Linked DNA regions of Homo sapiens: regions 1 and 3 are each linked to region 2. The links come from fine-mapping of genetic effects on plasma protein levels. A gene starts in region 2. Each other region holds a variant in brackets. All regions are shown on one strand. Distances are between the middles of the regions.

Region 1 (8,156 bases), 26 kb before region 2:
TGTTCTGTTGATAACAATCTGTCCTTGGAAGTAAAATTTGAGCAATGAGAACTTGCAGAATTCCTTTAAAAACTGCCACATCCTGTGAAAATTATCTTCAAAAATAAATCCATTCTTCATTTTGATATTATTTCAAAATCTGTCGCCTGAGCAATAATGTTTTAATTTACATCTATATACTCCTGCACAAAATAAATACTTGTAAAATTGCTCTGTCAAATTGGAAGTGGATCACTGATACCTTCATTTTCTCAGTTATTCATGTTAGGGGAAAGAAGCTCATGGTTCTGTAAGATATTCTACTTCAATGCAAAAATTGGGAGAATTATTTCAATTAATTAACAAATCCATGGTGAGCTGAGAGTTGAAGGCTGTGCCCTATGCTGGCAGTCTCAAATAAAGCAGCTAAGAGAGAGGAGAGAAACCTTAGGCTCCAGCAGAAGCCTTCCTGTCTCTGATATACCAGCTCAGGATAACTCTGTTAAGGAGTCATTTTGCTGAACAAATCTGCAGAGCCATCACAAAGAGAGTAAGAAAAAAAACATACACCTATTTTAAAAATTGTTTGTGGCCTAAGAACCTCAAGCAATTTCAATTTCCAAGGGAAGGAATTCAGGGCACTATACTCCATAAATTCTTAAATATTTTATTTGCTGCTAGCAGTCAGGTAGAAAAAATAGCCCAGGACACTGTCTTCCAGGAATATGTGAGTTTTCTTTACGAAAATGAGGCCCACCTGGCAGTAGAATGAGCTTCCCATAATTCCAGTGACCTGACGGTAAGGGATTGGCTTTCCTTAGAAACTGGGGCCACTCCCTGGTGCGTGGGAGATCTGGTGCATGGGAGAACTCAGAGCATCTTTGTGTATGCTTTCTGAATGTGTATTCTAAAAGTTTAACAGGTGATGAAATAGGTACCCAGAAAGGGGCATGTCAATTCATGTCTAGCTTATGTGGAGACTTCCAGCTTCTACCTGAACAACCTGAAACTGGTTCTGAGTGAATTCTTTCTTTCTCTTTCCCTCTCCCCTTCCTCTCTCCATCCCTCTCTCTGTGCTTCTCTTACCTTCCTTTTTTTTTTGTTTTGTTTTTTTGAGACGGAGTCTCACTTTGTCGCCCAGGATGAAGTGCAGTGGCTCTATCTTGGCTCGCTGCAACCTCTGCCTCCCGGGTTCAAGCGATTCTCCTGCCTCTGCCTACCCAGTAGCTAGAACTATAGGCGCCCGCCACGACCAGCTACTTTTTGTATTTTAGTAGAGACGGAGTTTCGCCATGTTGGCCAGGCTGATCTCAAACTCCTGACCTAAAGTGATCCACCTGCCTCAGCCTCCCAAAGTGCTGGGATTACAGGCGTGAGCCACCATGCCTGGCCTCTTTTTTTTTTTTCTCTTGGAAGAAATACACAAATAAGCTAAGTCGAGGTGTGTGGAATAACTTTGTGTCCTGCAGTGCATTTTTAAATCTTAGGAATGAGACAGGTGACATGACTATAGATTTGCAATTAGCCGTGCTAGTATTCAAAAGCCATCAGTACTGCTATAGACGGTAAATAGATAATAAACGAATATTATGAAAAACTTTATATAGATAAATATGACAACTTAGATAAAATGGACAAATTCCTTGACAGCTGCACACAAACTATCTAGGTTCATTTAAGGAGAAATAGCCTCAATAGCCCTATATCTATTAAAGAAATGGAATTTTCAAGGGGGGAGGGGCCAAGATGGCTAAATAGGAACAGCTCTGGTCTGCAGCTCCCAGCGAGACCAACTCAGAAGGCTGGTGATTTCTGTATCTCCAACTGAGGTAACCAGTTCATCTCACTGGAAATGGTTAGGCAGTGGGTCCAACCCGTGGAGAGCGAGCAGAAGCAAGATGGGGTGATGCTCCACCCAGGAAGTGCAAGGGGCCAGGGACCTCCCTTCCCCCAGCCAATGGAAGCTGTGAGGAACTGTGTTACCCAGCTGGGTTACTACGCTTTTCCCACGGTTTTTGCAATCTGCACATCAGGAGATTCCCTCGTGTGCCTACACCACTGGGGCCCTGGGTTTCAAGCACAAAACTGGGCAGCTGTTTGGGCAGACACGGAGCTAGCCGCAGGAGTTTTTTTGTACCCCAGTGGCTCCTGGAACCCCAGTGAGACAGAACCATTCACTCCCCTGGAAAGGGGGCTGAAGCCAGGGAGCCAAGTGGTCTCGCTCAGCAGGTCCCACTCCCACAGAGCCCAGCAAGCTAAGAACCACTGGCTGGAAATTCTCGCTGCCAGCACAGCAGTCTGAAGTAGACCTGGGACAATTGAGCTTGGTCATGGGAGGGGCGTCCGCCATTACTGAGACTTCAGTAGGCGATTTTTCAGACAGTGGTTAGGAGGCTGGGAGGTCTGGGCTGGGCGTGGCAAAGCGGCTGTGGCCAGACTGCTTCTCTAGATTCCTCCTCACTGGGCAGGGCATCTGTGAAGGAAAGGTAACAGCACCAGTCAGGGGCTTACAGACAAAACCACCATCTCCCTGGACAGAGCACCTGAGGGAAGGGGCGGCTGTGGGCACAGCTTCAGCGGATTTAATTGTTCCTGCCTGCTGGCTCTGAAGAGAGCAGCTGATCCTGACTAGCGGGATTCTCCCAGCATAGCGCACCAGCTCTGCTAAGGGACAGACTGCCTCCTCAAGTGGGTCCCTGACCCCCGAGTCTCCTGACTGGGAGAAACCTCCCAACAGGGGTTGACAGACACCTCATACAGGAGAGCTCTGGCTGGCATGAGGCTGGTGACCCTCTGGGATGAAGCTTCCAGAGGAAGGAGCAGGCAGCAGTCTTTGCTGTTCTGCAGCCTCCACTGGTGATACCCAGGTGAACAGGGTCTGGAGTGGACCTCCAGCAAACTGCACAAGAGGGACCTATTAGAAGAAAAACTAACAAACAGAAAGCAACAACATCAACATCAACATAAAGGAACCCCACACCAAAACCCCATCCAAAGGTCATCAGCCTCAAGGATCAAAGGTAGATAAATCCATGAAGATGAGGAAAAACCAATGCAAAAACACTGAAAACTCCAAAAACCAGAATGCCTCTTCTCCTCCAAATGATCACAACTCCTCTCTAGCAAGGGCACAAAACTGGAAGGAGAATGAGAATGACGAATTGACAGAAGTAGGCTTCAGAAGGTGGGTAATAACAAACTCCTCTGAGCTAAAGGAGCATGTTCTAACCTAATGCAGGGAAGCTAAGAACCTTGATAAAAGGTTACAGGAACTACTAACTAGAATAACCAGTTTAGAGAGGAACATAAATGACCTGATGGAGCTGAAAAACACAGCACGAGAACTTCGTGAAGCATACACAAGTATCAGTAGCCAAATTGATCAAGTGGAAGAAAGGATATCAGAGATTGAAGATCAACTTACTGAAATAAGGCATGAAGAAAATATTAGAGAAAAAAGAATGAAAAGGAATGAACAAAGCCTCCAAGAAATATGGGACTGTGTGAACAGACCAAACCTATAATTGATTGGTGTACCTGAAAGTGACGGGGAGAATGGAACCAAGTTGGAAAACACACTTTAGGATATTATTCTGGAGAACTTCCCCAACCTAGCAAGACAGGCCAACATTCAACTTCAGGACATACAGAGAACACCACTAAGATAATCCTCAAGAAGAGCAACCCCAAGACACGTAATCTTCAGATTCTCCAAGGTCAAAATGAAGGAAAAAATTTTAAGGGCAGCCAATGAGAAAGGTCAGGTTATCTATAAAGGGAAGCCCCTCAGACTAACAGCAGATCTCTCTTCAGAAACCCTACAAGCTAGAAGAGAGTGGGGGCCAATATTCAACATTCTTAAAAAAAGAACTTTCAACCCAGAATTTCATATCCAGCCAAACTAAACTTCATAAATGGAGAAATAAAATCCTTTCCAGACAAGCAAATGCAGAGGGATTTTGCCACCACCAGGCCTGCCTTCCAACAGCTCCTGAAGGAAGCATTAAATATGGAAAGGAAAAGCTGGTACCAGCCACTGCAAAAACACGCCAAAATATAAAGACCAATGACACTATGAAGAAACTGCATCAACTAATGTGCAAAATAACCAGCTAGCAGCATGATGACAGGATCAAATTCACACATAACAATATTAACCTTAAATGTAAATGGGCTAAATGCCCCAATTAAAAGACACGGGTTGGCAAATTGGATACAGAGTCAAGACCCATTGGTGTGCTGTATTTGGGAGACCCATCTCACGTGCAAAGACACACATGGGCTCAAAATAAAGGGATGGAGGAATATTTACCAAGCAAATGGAAAACAAAAAACAAAACAAAACAAAAACAAACAAACAAAACTGGGGTTGCAATCCTAGTCTCCGATAAAACAGACTTTAAACCAACAAAGATCAAAAAAGACAAAGAAGGGCATTACATAAAGGTAAAGGGATCAATGCAACAAGAAGAGCTAACTATACTAAATATATATGCATCCAATACAGGAGCACCCAGATTCATAAAACAAGTTCTTAGAGACATACAAAGAGACTTAGACTCCCACACAATAATAGTGGGAGACTTTAACACCCCACTGTCAATATTAGACAGATCAATGAGACAGAAAATTAACAAGGATATTCAGGACTTGAACTCAACTCTAGACCGAGTGGACCTAATAGACATCTACAGAACTCTCCACCCCAAATCAACTGAATATACGTTCTTCTTAGCATCACATAGCGCATATTCTAAAATTTAATACATAATTGGAAGAAAAACACTCCTCAGCAAATGCAAAAGAACAGAAAGCATAACAAACAGTCTCTCAGACCACAGTGCAATCAAGTTAGAACTCAGGTTTAAGAAACTCACTCAAAACTGCAAAACTACATGGAAATTGAACAACCTGCTCCTGAATGACTACTGAGTAAATAATGAAATTATGACAGAAATAAAGAAGTTCTTTGAAACCAATGAGAACAAAGAGACAGCATACCAGAATCTCTGGGACAAAGCTAAAGCAGTGTGTAGAGGGAAATTTATAGCACTAAATGCCCACAACAGAAAGCTGGAAAGATCTAAAATCACCACCCTAACATCACAATTAAAAGAACTGGAGAAGCAAGAGCAAACAAATTCAAAAACTAGCAGAAGACAAGAAATAACTAAGATCAGTGCAGAACTGAAATATATAAGAGACATGAAAAACACTTCAAAAAATCAGTGAATCCAGGAGCTGGTTTTTTGAAAAGATTAACAAAATACATGGACCACTAGCTAGACTAATAAAGAAGAGAGAGGGGAATCAAATAGATGTGCAAAAAAATGATAAAAGGAATATCACCACTGATCCCACAGAAATACAAACTACCATCAGAGAATACTACAAACACTTCTACACAAATAAACAAGAAATTCTAGAAGAAATGAATAAGTTGCTTGACACATACACCCTCCCAAGACTAAACCAGGAAGAAGTTGAATCCCTGAATAGACCAATAACAAGTTCCGAAATTGAGGCAGTAGTTAATAACCTACCAACCAAAAAAAGCCCAGGACCAGACAGATTCACAGCTGAATTCTACCAGAGGTATAAAGAGGCTGGTACCATTCTTTCTGAAACTATTCCAAATAATAGATAAAGAGGGACTCATCTCTAACTCATTTTATGCGGCCAGCATCATCCTGATACCAAAACCTGGCAGATACACAACTAAAAAAGAAAATGTCAGGCCAATATCCCTGATGGACACCGATGAGAAAATCCTCAATAAAATGCTGGCAAACCAAATCCAGCAGCACATCAAAAAGCTTATCCACCATGGTCAAGTTGGCTTCATCCCTGGGATGCAAGGCTTGTTCAACATACACAAATCAATAAAGGTAATCCATCACATAAACAGAACCAATGACAAAAACCACATGATTATCTCAATAGATGCAGAGAAGGCCTTCGATAAAATTCAACATCCCTTCATGCTAAAAACTCTCAATAAACTAGGTATTGATGGAAAATATCTCAAAATAATCAGAGCTATTTATGACAAACCCATAGCCAATATCATACCAAATGGGCAAAAGCTGGAAGCATTCCCTTTGAAAACCAGCACAAGACAAGGATGCCCTCTCTCATCACTCCTATTCAACATGGTATTGGAAGTTCTGGCCCAGGCAATCAGGCAAGAGAAAGAAGTAAAGGGTATTCAAATAAGAAGAGAAGAAGTCAGATTGTCTCTGTTTGTAGACGACATGATTGTATATTTAGAAAACCCCATTGTCTCAGCCCCAAAACTCCTTAAGGTGATAAGCAACTTCAGCAAAGTCTCAGGATACAAAATCAATGTGCAAAAATCACAAGCATTCCTATACACCACCAACAGAGAGACAGCCAAATCATGAGTGAACTCCCATTCACAATTGCTACAAAGAGAATAAAATACCAAGGAATACAACTTACAAGGGACATGAAGGACCTCTTCAAGGAAAACTACAAACCACTGCTCAAGGAAATAAGAGAGTATACAAACAAATGGAAAAACATTCCATGCTCATGGATAGGAAGAATCAATATCATGAAAATGGCCATACTGCCCAAAGTAATTTATAGATTCAATGCTATTCCCATGAAACTACCATTGACTTTCTTTGCAGACTTAGAAAAAACTACTTTAAATTTCGTGTGGAACCAAAAAGCAGCCCGTATAGCCAAGACAATCCTAAGCAAAAAGAACAAAGCTGGAGGCATCATGCAACCTGACTTCAAACAAAACTACAAGGCTACAGTAACCAAAATGCATGATACTGGTACCAAAACAGATATGTAGACCAATGGAACAGAACAGAGACCTTAGAAATAATGCCACACATCTATAACCATCTGATCTTTGACAGACCTGACAAAAACAAACAATGGGCAAAGGATTCCCTATTTAATAAATGGTGCTGGGAAAACTGGCTAGCCATATGCAGAAAACAGAAACTGGACCCCTTCCTTACACCTTATACAAAAATTAACTCGAGATAGATTAAAGACTTAAATGTAAAAATCTAAAACCATAAAAACCCTAGAAGAAAACCTAGGCAATGCCATTCAGGACATAGGCATGGGCAAAGACTTCATGACTAAAACACCAAAAGCAATGGCAACAAAAGCCAAAATTGACAAATGGGATCTAATCAAACTAAAGAGCTTCTGCACAACAAAAGAAACTATCACCAGAGTGAACAGGCAACCTACAGAATGGGAGAAAAGTTTTGCAAGCTACCCATCTGACAAAGGTCTAATATCCAGAATCTACAAGGAGCTTAAACAAATTTACAAGAAAAAAACAATCAAAAAGTGGGCGAAGGTTATGAACAGACACTTCTCAAAAGAAGACATTTATGGGGCCAACAAACATATTTTAAAAAGCTCATCATCACTGGTCATTAGAGACATGCAAACCAAAACCACAATGAGATACCATCTCACACCAGTTAGAATGGTGATTATTAAGAAGTCAGGAAACAACAGATAGAGAAACAGGAGCGCTTTTACACT[G/A]TTGGTGGGGGTGTAAATTAGTTCAACCATTGTGGAAGAAGACAGTGTGGTGATTCCTCAATGATCTAGAACCAGAAATACCATTTGACCCAGCAATCTCATTACTGGGTATATACCCAAAGGATTATAAATCATTCTACTATAAAGACACCTGCACACATATGTTTATTGCAGCACTATTTACAATAGCAAAGATTTGGAACCCACCCAAATGCCCATCAATGATAGACTGGAGAAAGAAAATGTGGGACATATAAACAGTGGGATACTATGCAGCCATAAAAAAGGATGAGTTCACGTCCTTTACAGGGAAATGGATGAAGCTGGAAACCATCATTCTCAGCAAACTAACACAGGAACAGAAAACCAAACACCACATGTTGTCATTCATAAGTGGGAGTTGAACAATGAGAACACATGGACACAGGGAGGGTAATATCACACACCAGGCTCTGTCAGGGGGTAGGGGTAAGGGGAAGAAGAGCATTAGAACAAATACCTAATGTATGCGGGACTTAAAACCTAGATAATGGGTTGATAGGTGCAGCAAACCACCATGGCACTTGTATACCTATGTAACAACCTGCACTTTCTGCACATGTATCCCAGAACTTAAAGTAAAATAAAAATTA
Region 2 (8,180 bases):
CCATGTTAATTTGTTTCAAACCATATTAAACACCAAACTCTATATAAATAGGATGTTGTACTACCAGCTATGCACTTGGAAGTGGGGATGATGATGAACAAGACAGGAACTCAGGGAATAGATCGCTCACTGGGGACTGGAGTGTTCAGGTGCATCTCATGAAGAAGATAATACATGGGTGGGGCCTTGAAAAACATGACAGATCTACAGAACAGGAGAAGAGAGGAAAGGACGTTCCAGAGTGGGATGATGTAAGCAAGGGCATAAAGGGGAAAACTGGCATGCAGATGTCAGGGAAAAAGAAGGCAAATCCTTTGAAACAGAGTTCAGCGGAAGGAAATAATAATGGAGAAGTAAATAGACTACAGAGGCTCTTAAATGTGCTATAGAGGCTCTTTAAATGTCCATAAGAAAATTGATCGAATTCTGTAGGTAAATTTTGAGTAAAGGAGGAACTCGTGAAAAGTGATGTTTAGGATGATTATTCTGGCACTCTGGTATAAGGTGAATGGGGCGACTAGAAGAGAGGTTGAGGGAGGTGGATTTGAAGGCTGTTGTTCTCATCCAGCCTTCTGAGACAAGGGCCTTGGCTAGGGACAGGAGGAATAGAGAGTAATGATCTGAGAGGTGTTAACAGGTCTGGGTGATCAGATATGGAGTAGCATTGCACCTCCCAAACACAAAGCTCTCTGTACCCAGCCCAGTAGCCCAAGGTAGAAAAACTTGGTTCAGTTACAACTTAGAAGAGACTAGGGAAGGGATAAAATGACCTGCTAGAATCATAGGAGGAAGTTTAAGGAGGGTGTGTTGGGATAGGCCTCACCCTAGTCCTGTCTTCTTAAAAGTTTTCTTCCCTCTTGGTATCAACCTTCTCCCTTCCCACTGGACAAGAGGAGATGTGGAGAAATACGGAGAGTTACAGCACAGCCTTCCTGCCAGAGTTCCTTCAGACAGGCACTGTTAGTTTTCATTAACTATGTGTGAATTTCTCATAAAGCTAAAGACATTCAATGTAAAGAAATACTCTGCTCTCTATTCTGAAATTGTCCTTTGCACTCCTTTGGTATCGAAATGCCTTCCTTTTGCTGAAAAGTTTACATTAAAGAATATAATTTTATGCCGGGCACGGTGGCTCACGCCTGTAATCCCAACACTTTGGGAGGCTGAGGCGGGCGGATCACCTGAGGTCTGGAGTTCGAGACTAGCCTGACCAACATGGAGAAACCCTGTTTCTACTAAAAATACAAAACTAGCTAGGCATGGTGGCGCATGCCTGTAATCCCAGCTACTCGGGAGGCTGAGGCAGGAGAATTGCTTGAATCCAGGAGGCAGAGGTTGTGGTGAGCTGAGATTGCACCATTGCACTCCAGCCTGGGCAAGAAGAGTGAAACTCCGTCTAAAAAAAAAAAAAAAAGAATAGCAATAGCAATTTTAAAAAATATATTATTATCAGCCCTATCCTGGGTTACAGAAAATAAAATAAGAATAATTTTAAATGTTCTTATTTAGGAAAAGAAAAATTTGTTTGATAAAATTACAAAGGTAAGAAACACTGAATATTGATGACAAGAGGGAATGGGAGCCACGTGAATTGCTGGTGGGTGTATAAGCTTCTGCAGCCACTTTTGAGAGTAATATCACGGTATTCAATCTCTTCCTTTGTTTATGCCACAAATACTTACACAGCACGTGCTATGTGCTGTCACTGCTGTAGGTGATACATCAGCAAAAAAGAAAAAATTCCTGCCTCAATGGAGCTTACATTCTAATGGGGGAACCTACCACAAACAAACAAATACAATTCCGGGTGGTGACAAGTACATTGAAGAGAAATAAAGCAAAATATGGAGCCAGCAAATGACAGTGAGGAGATACTATTTTAGATAGCACGGTTAGCGACCATCTCTCTGAGGAAGTAATATTTGAGTGAAGTGAGGAAGTGAAACTTACAAAAATCTGGGAGGAGAATAAGAATCTTTCAGGCAGAAAGAACAGCAAGTGAGGCCCTGGAGCAAGACTAAGCATGGAATGTTCCAGCAACTGTTCTAAACACAATGTGGCTAGATCAGAGTGAGTGAGGGGGAGAGTTGTAGGAAATGAGGCCAAGGGTCAGAGAAAGGCCCGATTTGTAGGGCCCTGTAGACCATGGGAAGGTGTTTGGAACTTATTCTGAGGGTACCTATGGGGAATTTTGAGAGAAAGTAACACAATATGGTTAACATTTTAAAAGTATCTCTCTAGCGACTCAGTGAATAAATTACTGTACAAAAAGATCAATGTAGCAGGTAGAGTCATCAGGACTTGCTGATGAATTAGATTTGAGTTTTGGAATGAGTGTGCATGTAACTCATGAACATAATTCTGCAGTCTTGCTCTCAGGTGTGTATCCCATAAAGGCGCTTCAGGGCTCTGTAGGGAAGCATCATGTCCTTACCAGTACTAACTTACATGAAACTTCCTATGTGCCAACCCCTGTTCTAAGCCCTTTACATATGTTAATTCATCCAGCCCTCACAATATGTACCAAGAAGTCCATTGTGGAATTGTCTGTGGTAGCTGAGGGTGGGCAGCAACTAGGATGTTAGGGGAATGGACAAGTGCAGTGTAGCAGAAGCATAGAATATTAGGGCAGTCATGGCTGGGCGCAGTGGCTCATGCCTGTAATCCCAGCACTTTGGGAGGCTGAGGTGGGTGGATCACCTGAGGTCAGGAGTCCAAGACCAGCCTGGCCAACATGGTGAAACCCCATCTCTGCTAAAAACACAAAATTAGCCAGGCGTGGTGATGCACGCCTGTAATCCCAGCTACTCAGGAGGCTGAGGCAGGAGAACTGCTTGAACCCAGGAGGTGGAGGTTGCAGTGAGCTGATATCATGCCATTGCATGCCAGACTGGGTAATAAGAGCAAAACTGCGTCTCAAAAAAAAAGAATATTAGGGCAGTCAAAAGCAATAAACATGATGCATGTAGAGCAATCTGAACAAATTTGAAACATCTGGGATTAATTTTTAAAAGTAGAAGTGAATATAATATCTAGAACACAATGCCACTTATGTAAATTAACAACACTAAATATTTCTCAAAGCTAAAAACTGCATGTTATACCTAATGTAAATGACGAGTTAATGGGTGCAGCACACCAACATGGCACATGTATACATATGTAACAAACCTGCACGTTGTGCACATGTACCCTAGAACTTAAAGCACAAAAAAAAATAGCATGTATATGGGAACACACAGTAAACATTTTACAGTGGGTGCTTATGTGGAGGGGAGGAGGACAATAATGTGGGTGAAAGTCAACAAGGTAAGACAATAAGAGGGGGAACTTGCAAAGACCAATAATGACAGCCGGCCATGAGCAGCATCTTGAATCCCTGACAATCAGAGAGATAAGAGAACAGATTTTGGAGACAGACTTCTATTCAAATCCCAGTTTCATCATCTCAGTTTCCTCATATGCAAAATTGGGATATTAATAATTCTTCCTCAAAGGGCCTTACAAGAATTAAGTGCAGTAATATCTGTGAAGCACTTAGCATAGTGCCTGCCACATGCCGAGACACTAAAGTGAGCTGTCATCAGCAACAACAGCATTAGTTCATTACTGTAATTATCACTGAGAACACTTTATCACCAGAATGCTTATCAAATGGTGACATATATTGTCCAGATGTTATGTTGTGATAGGCCTCAAATAATTGCTCAAGTTACAAATGATAATTTCTAAATTTTTCTGCATTGTAAAGGAGTGAAGAATTAGAAATTCTGGGGAAAAGTCCTAGATGGAGTAAAAAGACTCACTTTGGGAAAAACTTAGAGGAGAGCCTAGAATAAATAAATATTTCGTGGGAAATTTTTCAAGTCAAATTCTGAGCACTGTATAATATGAACAGTATGGATGGTTCCAGAGGTTTCTAGGGACGACTATACAGTTCACAAAGTTTTGGTGTACTAAGGTTTCTTCTGAATCGAGTAAAGGGGCTGAGATCTGTGCTCTGGGGGATGAGAAGCCAAAATAGAGCCAGCTTGTGTTGCCTAAGAGGACAGCTGACAACTGCATTGCATTCTTACCATTGAGGTGGTGGCTTGGTGCAGAAGTCAGACCTCTGTGGCAGGCTGTGGATCATGTGGGAAGCCACACACTGGCCCTGAGACGAGGAATTATTAGGATGGAGGGGAAGCACAAGAGTGCTGGTCAGCCCAGGCACTCCTAAAGCAGGCAGGTGATCATCCCTGTTCCCAGTAATTAGTTCTTCTCTGCCTCCCCTACTCTTGGGCACATTGTCAAATATGTCCCTACTTTGTTTGAAATCTACAGGACTCTATCTCTTTTATCAAAACCTGCACTCAAAACATGATCTGAAGTGACCAGCATAATTTAAATGACCAGTCACATTTTCCTAAGAGGCATTTGCATTTTTAAAAGGGGCTAGTCCATTAAGCAAAATATGAGGGGACTCTCAGAGTGGAACTTCAGGCATCAGCAAGAGGGGAAGATACTATCTTCCTGGGAGTTGACAGTACCTGATAATTGATCTCCTTCCCATCAGATTTCCAAGGGATCAAGGTGCCCCGGTTCTAAACAACCACAGGTAAGGACAGGATAGAGTCCAAGGAGACACACTATCAGGCTGGAAAATTCATTAAGTATTTACATGAAAATTCAGGTTCTCCTCATTGCTCAGGTACGGTCACATGGCTCAGAAAGCACAAGAAGTAGAGCCCCGAGGTCAGATCTGAGAGGCTTCTGAGGGGCCGATGCAGTGACTTCTCTGCTGCAGGTCAGGAGTTCTGGAACTGGGGCGTGGCTGGGGAGGGGTTGCAGGGAAGGGTGGGAGGAAGGAAGAAAAGAACAAGTGATTGGAAGTGCCACAGGATGAGCTCATTGGGATGGGTAGGAAAGAAGAGTTTTCTAACTTCTTAAGAATTTAAGAATTTATGAGAACTCAAGATTTCAGGAAGGGAGGAAGAAGAAACACATTGCATTTCTATCCTTGACTGGGGAACTAGATGATAGGGATGTGAAGGGTGGTTGGTGAGTCATGCCTTTTCGTCTACTCATTGTGGCAGGATGTGAGCTCTGGGGGCAGGCAACCGAACACTGACCTCTCTAGGTCTCATGCCAATGTCTGTCATCAGGAGTGAGCAGGAAAAAGGTCCTTAAGGACATGAGGCCGTGTCTTCCTCAGCTGAGCCTTGCAGGGCTGGCTGGAAGGTGGAGAAGGGATGGGATGGGAGTGGGATGTCAATGGGAGCCTGAAGATGGCGGGGTCATCTGCTGGAGCCTGGGGTTCTATGGGGCTCTCTTGTGCTGTGGAGGGCACAAGTTCTGCAGGCCTTCCTTTCAGTAGTCAGGGCTGGCCTGAGCTGTGAGGTGGCTGTAGATGCGGTAGATGAGACAGTGCCTGGCACTTGGGATACCTGATATTCAGCCTGTCTCCCACTGGTTCTGGTCTGCTATCTTCAGGAACTAGGAGTGGGTGGGAGAAGCAGCAATGTCTCCTAGTACTCAGTGGCATCCACTGGCCACATTCTTTCTCTCTGTTCCCCATCTCATGCCAGTGCATCTCCATCCTTCTGCAGCTGCTGCAGTCAGATCCATCATGTGGCCACTGACAGCCCTTCTGCTCCTGGGTGAGTCCACAGTGAGGCAGCAGAAGAGCTTTGGGTGGTGGAGAATAGGGTGGACCAAGGTATGGGGAGAGGAGGGTGGGTATCCAATCCTCAGTTTCCAAGTGGTTCATTATCTTTTTTTGGAGGGGTGAAGAAGAAGGGGCTTTCTCAGAGCTTGGGAAACCAGGGGCAGAAGAAGAAAAACAGGTTTTGGGACCATTCAGCCTTTCTTGTCGTCAAGAGTCTCTCTCCTCTCATCGCCAATATTCTCCTTCTCCTTCCTCTTCCTTCTTTCCTGTTCTGCAGTTCCAAGCAGTGGGCAAGCTGGTGAGTCTTATAAATTTCTCATCCCAATTTTCTACAGCTTCCACTCCAACCCCCTAAGTGACCTTTTCAAGTAGACTCCTCACTTCTTGGCTGCGCTGGGATAGTGTCTCTTCCCACTCTCGTCAACCCCTGGGACTAAATTTGCTTGAAGGCATTTAGAAATGGGTGCTGGCTGATGGACTGGTAGTCTGTAACCCAATGAATGTGATCTCCTCTCCTGCAGGGATGGGTTAGTACATGGGCTGGGGCCTGCGAGCTGGGGTTTCCTAAGATTTCCCAAACTCAGGTCGTTTCTTTGGGCACCTCACCTTGATTCTCTTTGCATGCTGCCCCCTCTCACCCCACTCCCCACCCCAGCTACTCTGGAGAAGCCCATATTGTCTCTACATCCACCTTGGACCACCATCTTCAAAGGGGAGCGGGTAACTTTGAAGTGTGATGGATACCACCCACTGCTCCTGGAGCTCCAGCCCATCAGCACTCTCTGGTATTTGGGCCACCTACTTCTGCCCTCTCACAAGAAGAGCATTGAGGTGCAGACACCAGGGGTGTATCGATGCCAGACACGGGGAGCACCCGTCAGTGACCCCATCCACCTCTCTGTATCCAATGGTGAGTGGACTGAGCACGAGGGGAGGGGGAGCACGTGTCTCCTCTGGCAATACTAGTCCTCTGGTGGGAGGGAACACTGGGCCAATCCCAAGGTGCAGGAAACAAGGGCCACACTGGGGCCTATCTTAAGTCTCTGGAGCAGGTAGGGACCTGCACGGCACTATGCGAGAGATGCAGTAAGGCATGCCTAGCCCCCAAGGTCCCCTTACCCTCCTGCCATAGTGTGAGGCACAGTGTGAACATTTCTGTTTGTTTCTGAGACCAGCTCAGAAGAGCAAAGGCTCCAAGGACCTGGAGTGCTGGACAGAGAACTTTAGGGGGTTGGGGAGGGAGCAGTAAAGGAAATTCACCAAACAGGAAAGGTGAGTTTCCCTGGCAGTCTGAGCATAGATCAAGGATCTACTCTCAGTTGAACAGTGTGATGCTTCTCTGTGCCTCAGTGTCCACATCTGTAAAGAAGGGACAATAATAGTATGTATCTCTTCGGCTGCTCTGAGGATTAAAAGTGAATTATGATTTGCTAAAGAAAAAAAGCAGCAATTGAACTGAGCACTTACTCAAAGTTTTATTGCAGACGTGTATATGTGTACACAGGAGTCAGCTGAGAAACTGATTCTCGAGATGCTTGAAGGGTTTTAAAACAGGATAAGAAAAATAACAATAATTTGTTCAATAAAGTACAGGATTGCTGGGCACGGTGGCTCAAGCCTGTGATCCCAGCACTTTGGGAGGCCAAGGCGGGCAGATCACCTGAGGTCAGGAGTTCAAGACCAGCCTGGCCAACATGGTGAAACACTCTCTACTAAAAAAAAAAAAAAAAAAAAAAATAGCTGGGCATGATAGCGGGTGCCTGTAGTCCCAGCTACTCAGGAGGCTGAGGCATGAGAATTGTTTGAACCTGGGAGGCGGAAGTTGCAGTGAGCTGAGATCGTGCACTCCTAGCCACAATTTGTATTCAGAATTTAAAGCACATCACTCAATGTTCAGATTAGCACTTACACACACTTCATATTCATACTCTGTGGTTTCTTGTTCGGAAATCATTGGTGATAGCAATAATTATACTGAGTACTATAGGAGTAATTACTGCTTACAGATTGGGAGTGCATGTGGATTGTGGCTATTACTTGCAGGATTCTTTCTCAATGTACAACACCTAAAATGGCATCTGCTCTGTGCTAGGGCTATGTAAGCGTGCTATAATGATCACAGGGTAATTATGAGGTGCTGTAGGAGATACCTAAGGCTCTCCTGGGGTGTCAGGGATGTTTTCTGGAGGAGATAAGGTCTAAGCCTAGACATGCAGGACAAGCAGGTGAACTTAAACAGGTGAAAGAGAGTCTTCTTGGCTGAGGAAATAGCAGGTACAAAAGCCTCGGGCTCAGAGCAGGGCCAGTTCTCTCAACAGTTCAGTATGGCTGGAACTTATCCTGTTAGGAGTGGAAGATGAGGAAAGTAGAGAGGAAATGGGGCAGGAATGAATACTGCCATGGTGAGGGAGAGGTAAGCAGGACCCAGTCAGGAGGACTCTGACACCATCCTAAGGAGGTTATAGTTGATTCTCATGGTCAAAACCCTTTGAGGGTGGAGCCAAGTCTCTGGCATCTTTGCTCCCTGGCTAAG
Region 3 (8,166 bases), 100 kb before region 2:
TCCCAAGGCAGAAGAATTTTTCTTAGTACAGAACAAAATGGAGTTTCCCATGTCTACTTCTTTCTACACAGACACAGCAACAATCTGATTTCTCTATCTTTTCCCCACATTTCCCCCTTTTCTATTCCACAAAACCGCCATCGTCATCATGGCCCGTTCTCAACGAGCTGTTGGGTATAGCTCACAGACGGGGTGGCGGCTGGGCAGAGGGGCTCCTCACTTCCCAGAAGGGGCAGACGGGCAGAGGCACCCCCCACCTCCCGGACGGGGCGGTGGCAGGGCAGAGTCGCCCCCCATCTCCCTCCCAGATGGGGTGGCTGCCGGGCAGAGGCGCTCCTCACTTCCCAGACGGGGCGGCTGCCGGGCGGAGGGGCTCCTCACTTCTCAGACGGGGCGGCTGGGCAGAGACGCTCCTCACCTCCCAGACGGGGTCGCGGCCGGGCAGAGGTGCTCCTCACATCCCAGACGTGGCGGCGGGGCAGAGGCGCTCCCCACATCTCAGACGATGGGCAGCCGGGCAGAGATGCTCCTCACTTCCTAGATGGGATGGAGGCCAGGAAGAGGCTCTCCTCACTTCCCAGACTGGGCAGCCGGGCAGAGGGGCTCCTCACATCCCAGACGATGGGAGGCCAGGCAGAGACGCTCCTCACTTCCCAGACGGGGTGGCAGCCGGGCAGAGGCTGCAATCTCGGCACTTTGGGAGGCCAAGTCAGGCGGCTGGGAGGTGGAGGTTGTAGCTAGCCGAGACCACGCCACTGCACTCCAGCCTGGGCAACATTGAGCACTGAGTGAACGAGACTCCGTCTGCAATCCCGGCACCTTGGGAGGCCGAGGCTGGCAGATCACTCGCGGTTAGGAGCTGGAGACCAGCACGGCCAACACGGCGAAACCCCGTCTCCACCAAAAAAATACGAAAACCAGTCAGGCGTGGCGGCGTGCGCCTGCAATCGCAGGCACTCGGCAGGCTGAGGCAGGAGAATCAGGCAGGTAGGTTGCAGTAAGCCGAGATGGCAGCAGCACAGTGCAGCTTCGGCTGGGCATCAGAGGGAGACCGTGGAAAGAGAGGGAGAGAGAGACTGTGGGGAGAGGGGGAGGGGAGGGGGAGGGGGAGAGGGAGAGGGAGAGCTATTCTTTTATTCTTTAAAAATTCTTCCTTTTTACTCTCCTGCTTTTGCATTGCTGTCACATACATGTAAAATGTAGCACAGGAAATGTATGTGTATTCACAATCAACTGGAAACTAATAACTTTTTATTTCTGCTGTCAATCCAACAATGGAGGTAAAGCACAGAGTGGTAGTTCCAAACTTGAACTTCACAGATGAACAAAATTTCCCCACAATGTTGGTTACTGGCCAGGCGAGGTGGCTCAAGCCTGTAATCCCAACTACTTGGGAAGCTAAGGCAGGAGGATTGCTTGAGCTTGAGAGTTGCAGGCTGCAGTGAGCTAAGATCGTGCAGCTACACTCCAACCTAGGTGATAGAGCAAGACCCTGTCTCTAATGACATCAGAAAAGTTGGTTACTAGTATAGGGTGGCCAACTTTTCATTTTGCCAAATTGTGAAATTCATAAAACAAATAGCCACAAAACTATCATCTATCCTAATTTTAATTTTAAAAAAGAAAGGACATTTAAAAACAACTTATTTTGGCAAATGAAAACTTATTACTATTGGGTTTTCACCATTAAAGCTGATGAGCTTGGTCTTTCCTCCTTGCTTTTGATAGGGCCAAAAGAGAGACATTGGCTACTTTAACAACTTTAAGGTGGACTCCAGGAATATCACCAACAGCATGACCTTTTCTGCCAAATCCAGCAACCAGAACTGTTGCAGGAAGTCAGGGACCCTGAACGGAGGGACCAGCTGGAGCCGAGGCAGAAGAACATAAATTGTGATGATTTCATGGACATTTGTCAGTTTCCAAAATTAATACTTTTATAATTTCTTACACCTGTCTTTACTGCAATCTCTGAACATAAATTGTGAAGAATTCATGGACATTTATCGCTTCCCCAATCAATACTCTTATAATTTCTTATGCCTCTCTTTAATCTCTTAATCCTGTCATCTTCGTAAGCTGAGGATGTGTGTCACCTCAGGACCCTGTGATGGTTGCGTTAACTGTACAAATTGTAAAACATCTGTGTTTGAACAATATGAAATCAGCGCACCCTGAAAAAGAACAGAATAACAGCAATTTTCAGGGAACAAGGAAAGATAACTGTAAGGTCTGACTGCCTGTGGGGTCGGGCAGAATAGTGTCATATTTTTCTTCTTGCAGAGAGCCTATAGATGGACATGTGAGTAGGAGAAATATTGCTGAATTCTTTTCCCCACAAGGAATATTAATAATTGATAGCCCTGGGGAAGGAATGCATTCCTGGGGGTAGGTCTATAGATGGCCGCTCTGGGAGTCTCAGTCTTATGTGGTTGAGATAAGGACTGAAATACACCCTGGTCTCCTGCAGTACCCTCAGGCTTACTAGGATTGGGAAATTCCAGCCTGGTAAATTCTAGTCAGACCAGTTGTCTGCTCTCGAACCCTGTTTCCTGTTAAGATGTTTATCAAGACAATGTGTGCACAGCGGGACATAGGCCCTCATCAGTAATTCTAATTTTGCCTTGCCTTGTGATCTTTTATCGCCCTTTGAAGCATGTGATCTTTGTGACTTACTCCCTGTTTGTACACCCCCTCCCCTTTTAGAATCCCTAATAAAAACTTGCTGGTTTTGTGGCTCAGGTGGGCATCATGGAACCTGCCAATATGTGATGTCACCCCTGGCGGCCCAGCAGTAAAATTTTTCTCTTTGTACTCTTTCTCTTCATTTCTCAGACCGGTCAACACTTAGGGAAAATAGAAAAGAACCTACATTGAAATATTGGGTGCTGGTTCCCCTGATACAGAACTTCATCATTTTTTTCAATAAAATTCAAGCAATCATCATCAGGTACAAAGGCTGTGATTTTCTTGCTGTTCTCTCATCTGCCTCACAGCCTCCAACCTGTAACAAGAGGATCAGCTGTGCCAGTGGAGACCACAGCATCTAGCTTATGCTGGATGATCAGCTTGGCCCTGGCACACTTCTCAGTGGCAGAGCTGGGCTATTTGGCTCCAATCCCTACTTTTTCCAGCCCAATTCCCTTTGCATGAGAAGCACCTCCAAAAGGGCTGGTCTTCAGGACTGTGCCCGAATGGGCTTTCTTGTACCATTTACCATGCCACTTCTGATCCTGTCGGTGACAATGGAGCTTCCTGGAGGTAGACAGTCCATGACACTTGCCCATATTGCCAGCTCCACAGGTCTGAGCAAAAGAACAGAGACAAAAATTTAAAATAAAAGAAATGACTCTAGGCCTGGTACGGTGGCTCTTGCCTGTAATCCCAGCACTTTGGGAGTCTGAGGCGGGAGGATCACCTGTGGTCAGGAGTTTGAGACCAGCCTGGCCAATATAGCGAAAGCCCATCTCTGCTAAAAATACAAAAAAATTAGCTGGGCGAGGTGGCAGGCGCCTATAGTCCCAGCTACTCGGGAGGCTGAGGCAGGAGAATGGCGTGAACCTTGCGGGGCGGAGCCTGCAGTGAGCCGAGATCGCGCCACTGCATTCCAACCTGGGCGACAGCGAGACTCTGTCTCAAAAAAAAAAAAAAAAACACAAAAATTAGCCGGGCATGGTGGCCCATGACTGTAATCTTCTCAGCTACTCAGGAGGCTGAGGCAGGAGAATTGCTTGAATGTGGGAGGTGGAGGTTGCAGTGAGCCGAAATCGCACCACTGCACTCCAGCCTGGGCAACAGAGCAAGACTCCATCTCAAAAAAAAAAATTAATTAAAAAAAAATAAATGACTCTAGTTTAAAGATCATTTGGCAAATTTATTTATTTACTTATTTAGTATACATATGATACACATATATGTATTTTACATAAGATATAAAATATGTGTACACATAAACATATATGCATATATAATTTCTGCATATGCATATCTATGTTTGCATGTCTTCTCATTTCACTAAACATCATTGAAAACTTCCACCTGCAACTAAACTGGAGCCCACTGATGACAGAGGATGGCAGGGCAGAAAGAAAGGAGATTCTGTGTGGAGGCTATGGAGAGGCCCTGGGTCTTGGGCAGTATAGAAAATGGCTTTTGTCCAAGTGTTCTTATTGCTCAATTCCCACCTATGAGTGAGAACATGCGGTGTTTGATTTTCTGTCCTTGCGAAAGTTTGTTTAGACTGATGGTTTCCAGCTTCATCTATGTCCCTACAAAGGACATGAACTCATCCTTTTTTATGGCTGCATAGTATTCTATAGTGTATATGTGCCACATTTTCTTACTCCAGTCTATCATTGATGGACATTTGGGTTGGTTCCAAGTCTTTGCTATTGTGAATATTTCCGCAATAAACTTACGTGTGCACGGGTGGGGAACATCACACACCGGGACCTGTCGTGGGTGGGGAAGGGGGGAGGGATAACATTAGGAAAAACACCTAATGTAAATGACGAGTTAATGGGTGCAGCACACCAACATGGCACATGTATACATATGTAACAAACCTGCACCTTGTGCACATGTAGCCTAGAACTTGAAGTATATATATATGAATTAAAGAAAAAAAAGGCTTTTTAGACCCAGCACTGACGAGATTCCCTAGGTCGATGGTGGTGGAATTAGGGGTCTCTGTCCTCAGACATTTGGATCTGGATATGTCAGCATGAAAGTCCTTAAGTTGCAGGCATTTTTTAAAAAATATTTTTTATTTCCAAGCTGAATACCATTAATTGGAATGTTACAGGCTTTTTAAGCTCCGTGTTCTGTCTGCATGGCTAATATGCCCGTAGAAACCTTTCAAAACAGCGTGGGTTGAAGACTAATTTTGTAACACAAAACTCACTTACTTAGATATCACATTTTGCTGGACGTGATTGGACCTGAAAGAAAATATTTTTAATGCTCACGACAATAACCTTTTTATGAGTCAGCACTAAACGTGTGCACATGCATACATAAGTTGTCTACATCAGCAAAAAAAGCTTATCGTCGTATTTCTCTGACCAAAATCAACGGAACCCCCGAAATCACAGAGAGCATCCATTTTGGATTCCCCGAAGACCCTTCGTTCCTGCATCCTCTTCTGCTCTCCCTTTCTCAGCCTCTTCTGCTGGAAGCTGAGTCCTGCTCCAGATCTAGGCAAGTGCTAGCGCGGAAAAAAGACCTGCCTCGCTCAGGGCTGTGAGCCGCGCCCTGAAGCACGGAAAGCTAATTGTGTCACTGGTTTCAAATCAACTTCAAATTTTTTGGAGACGTAAGAGTGCTGAGCATTTTTTCTTCAGTGAAGTGACTTGGCAGCCCAGGTCGCCAACGCCCGTTTCTGTAGCGCGATCGGTTAGCGCCTTCGGCTGTTAAACGAAAGGTTGGTGGTTCGTTCCCACCCCGGGACAGAAGTCCCACTTTTGTGAACCTTGAGTTTTTGAAACTTTCACTGAAAAAAACCGCGTGCGATGCTATCCGCCGGGAGCGCTGGAGCCTTGGCTCTCAAAACCAGCCGCGGTGCTAACCGCCGGGATCCCTGGCAGCTGACCTCCGCGTTGTGTGGTTCCCAATGTCCTCTTCTGCCTTAGTGCTGTACGGGTAATTTTGAGGTATTTGGTTTTTCCGACTAGGGTTGTAGTGATAACTCTTAGCTGCTTAACCACTGCAATTACGTTATGGAAACTGACACTTTAAGAAAATTTACTGACCAAAGGAAGTAAGTACTAATAATACCAAAACAAATTGTTTGTCTTTCCACCAAACCTGTACCTGCCTTGCCTTTCTATTTCCTAACTCAGAAAACGGGCACTATGTGTGGAACCTGGTCCTTAGTCATGCCATGTACTGCCGGCTGCCAATTCTTGGAGAGTCGGCCTCCTAAATACCTTGTTGATTAAGCACCTTCCTCTCCAGCCTCACCGCCAGTTACTTCCTCATTGCTCCCTTTGGGTTATTGCATCCTGCCTTGCATGCCCTATCTGGTTTCCGGTCTTCAGCTCTCCTGTCCCGTCCATCCATCAAGTAGTTGCCAGAGAATCCTTCTAAAATACTATACGGTATAAACCTGGTCTGCTTAAACTCTCTCAATGTATTGCAGGGTCTGATACGATCTTCTTAGTTTGGAAGGTAATGCCCTTCATGATCTGGCCCTGAAACTCTTTCCTCTCCCTCACCGACACAGAACCAAACTGCTTTCTTGAACTCACACTCTGGCTTTTGAATCTTTGCCTATGAACCTTGGGCTTTTCTTCTCTTCTTTGCCTGGCGAACTCCTACTCATCCTTCATGACCACACCCCCCAAATCAAGCCTCTTTTCTGCAGCCCTTTCTTCATTCTCTTCCTATTTAACTGTTTTTCTCACTAGAAATAAAGCTTCTCCAGGGAATGACCCTGTGTTGTTCATCTGGTATCTTCAGCACCTGAACTCAAGCTTGCACATTGTAGGTAGTAAATAAATGTGAGTTGAATGTCCAAGGTTTCCAAATGCACCTGTGTCGTGTCGGAATCTTATGTAATATTTATGTATGTAATCTAGCTTGAATCGTCTTGGTATATAGCTCATAATTCATACAATCAGGCTGACCCTCTACCTCTGCCCAGGCCTCTACCTCCTGTGTAGCTGTGCCTTCTCCTATCTGCCCCAATGCTCTAAAACGATCTCTAATGCTTATTCACCCTCCTATCCCATACTTCCCATAAGAATCCCCCTTAGCCCAATTTTCTCAGCAAGATTTGGAAAGCAAGCTGGCTAATTCATATGAGTTGTGGTGAGATGGCTGCTGGGAGGAGGGGGTGTTTCTTACCAATCCAAACCAATCTCTGTTACAATGTTGGACAAAGGGAAGAAGAAAGAATTTTATCATTCATATTTTATTACCATGGTTTTGCCATCTTCTATCTAAGAGTAGCATGCAAGATCTTGTAAAATGCTTTATTGGAACCAAGAAATGTTGCACTGAAAGCTTACAAAACAGAGACAGCTAAAGCTTT[C/T]TTTCATAAGCAACAATTGTCTTCTCCATCCCCACCTCATTGGAACTGACATGAAGAAGGATTTGAAAGTTTCACAGCGTAACTCAGTGAAGCTCAGTAGTACATTTAGTATTGGTTATACAACATTTGTTTAATAAATGCAATGAACAAAGCTATACAGGAACTAGACATTGAAGCAGAAAAGGTGGTTTTACAGTCCCTGCATTAACCTCTAATTCTTACTACCCCGGCCAAGAAAGCATTTTCACCTCCTGCGCTTTCCTTCCTGTGTGCTTCTGGTTGGTTCTTTCTTCTCAGGCTTTCTCATTCTGATGCTGAGATAGTTCTGTTCACTTAGCTTAACTTGAGACAGTGACACAGGGTTTGTTCTGTACTTTCTTTTCCACCCCACCCCCACCCCAATCCTCAGTCCCCTTCCTAGGACCATTTTCTACTCCTAGCATTAGAGGACTCATCGTTATATACTTGGAAATGGTCCAGTTCTGATAGAGTCCCCTGGAAGACTCAATTCTACGTCACCCTCATGATTTCCTGTTAATTCCACTACGGCTAATGTTCTAGGAAGACACCCTTATCTCTGGGCTCAGATGGGAACACCTCCCTTAGACTATCCTGGACTACCCTGCTATTTCTCAGCCATGCTTTCATTGGTCCCACTGAATTCTCTAGATCCCCAGCAGTTCCCACACTCTGTAGGGTCCTGCCTCAACCATTAATTCTACTTATCCATTTGTTTAGGAATAATTATTTTCTTTTTTTCCCTCTAAACTGGGTAATTTATAATACGAGCAATTTTTGTATGTTTAAAGGATTACCATCCCTAGCCTGTATTGTTGCTTTGCTGTGAGGGAATGGTTGGGACAGAAAAAGTGTTTGTGTAGCTCTGAAACTTCAATTTCTAGGAATGCAGCTACTCACTGGGGCTTCCCTGCTTGAAGATCATGGGCTTTTCCCTTCCACTGGAGACCAAGGAAAAATCGAGAGTTGGATAAAGGATCTGGCTCTGAGTTCTATGTTTCCTGCTGCTTGTAGAGAGGCCTGAGGATGATGGGGTTGCAAATCCAGAGAAATGTTCAGAGATGCTGCTGCCACTGCTCTTATTACCCCCATGGGATGGGGGTCATGTGTCTTGA

Direction of the effects. Positions count from the first base shown, and alleles are read on the strand shown. Strength reflects both the effect of a copy and how common the allele is. Not every link is listed here.
As copies of C replace T in region 3, the plasma level of the protein whose gene starts at base 4,480 in region 2 goes down (moderate association).

Evidence for each region. A credible set is the group of variants that fine-mapping cannot tell apart. PIP is the chance, under the fine-mapping model, that this variant and not a neighbour inherited with it causes the effect. Protein levels are from antibody-based Olink assays in UK Biobank. Linkage for the fine-mapping came from a reference panel and not from the study's own genotypes, which makes the PIPs less certain.
Region 1: its variant is the best candidate, but not a certain one, in a credible set for the plasma level of the FCRLB protein (UK Biobank, PIP 0.52).
Region 3: its variant is the best candidate, but not a certain one, in a credible set for the plasma level of the FCRLB protein (UK Biobank, PIP 0.80).

The regions. Positions count from the first base shown.
Region 1 is chr1:161,691,150-161,699,305 of GRCh38, forward strand. No RefSeq gene overlaps it. Among named protein-coding and RNA genes, the nearest start is that of FCRLA, 12 kb to the right of the region's middle. The variant G/A (reference allele first, on the strand shown) is at 7,525.
Region 2 is chr1:161,717,065-161,725,244 of GRCh38, forward strand. FCRLB (Fc receptor like B) reads left to right here and starts at 4,480. Exons shown (of 8, transcript NM_001002901.4): 1 at 4,480-4,597; 2 at 4,691-4,786; 3 at 5,589-5,639; 4 at 5,925-5,945; 5 at 6,303-6,557. The coding sequence starts at 5,609. RefSeq lists a silencer at 1,833-1,882 and enhancers at 5,262-5,361, 5,442-5,541.
Region 3 is chr1:161,616,299-161,624,464 of GRCh38, forward strand. It overlaps FCGR3B (Fc gamma receptor IIIb), which reads right to left. Exons shown (of 5, transcript NM_001244753.2): 5 at 6,898-8,166. It also overlaps the pseudogene RPS23P9. Among named protein-coding and RNA genes, the nearest start is that of TRL-CAA6-1, 8.4 kb to the left of the region's middle. The variant C/T (reference allele first, on the strand shown) is at 7,034.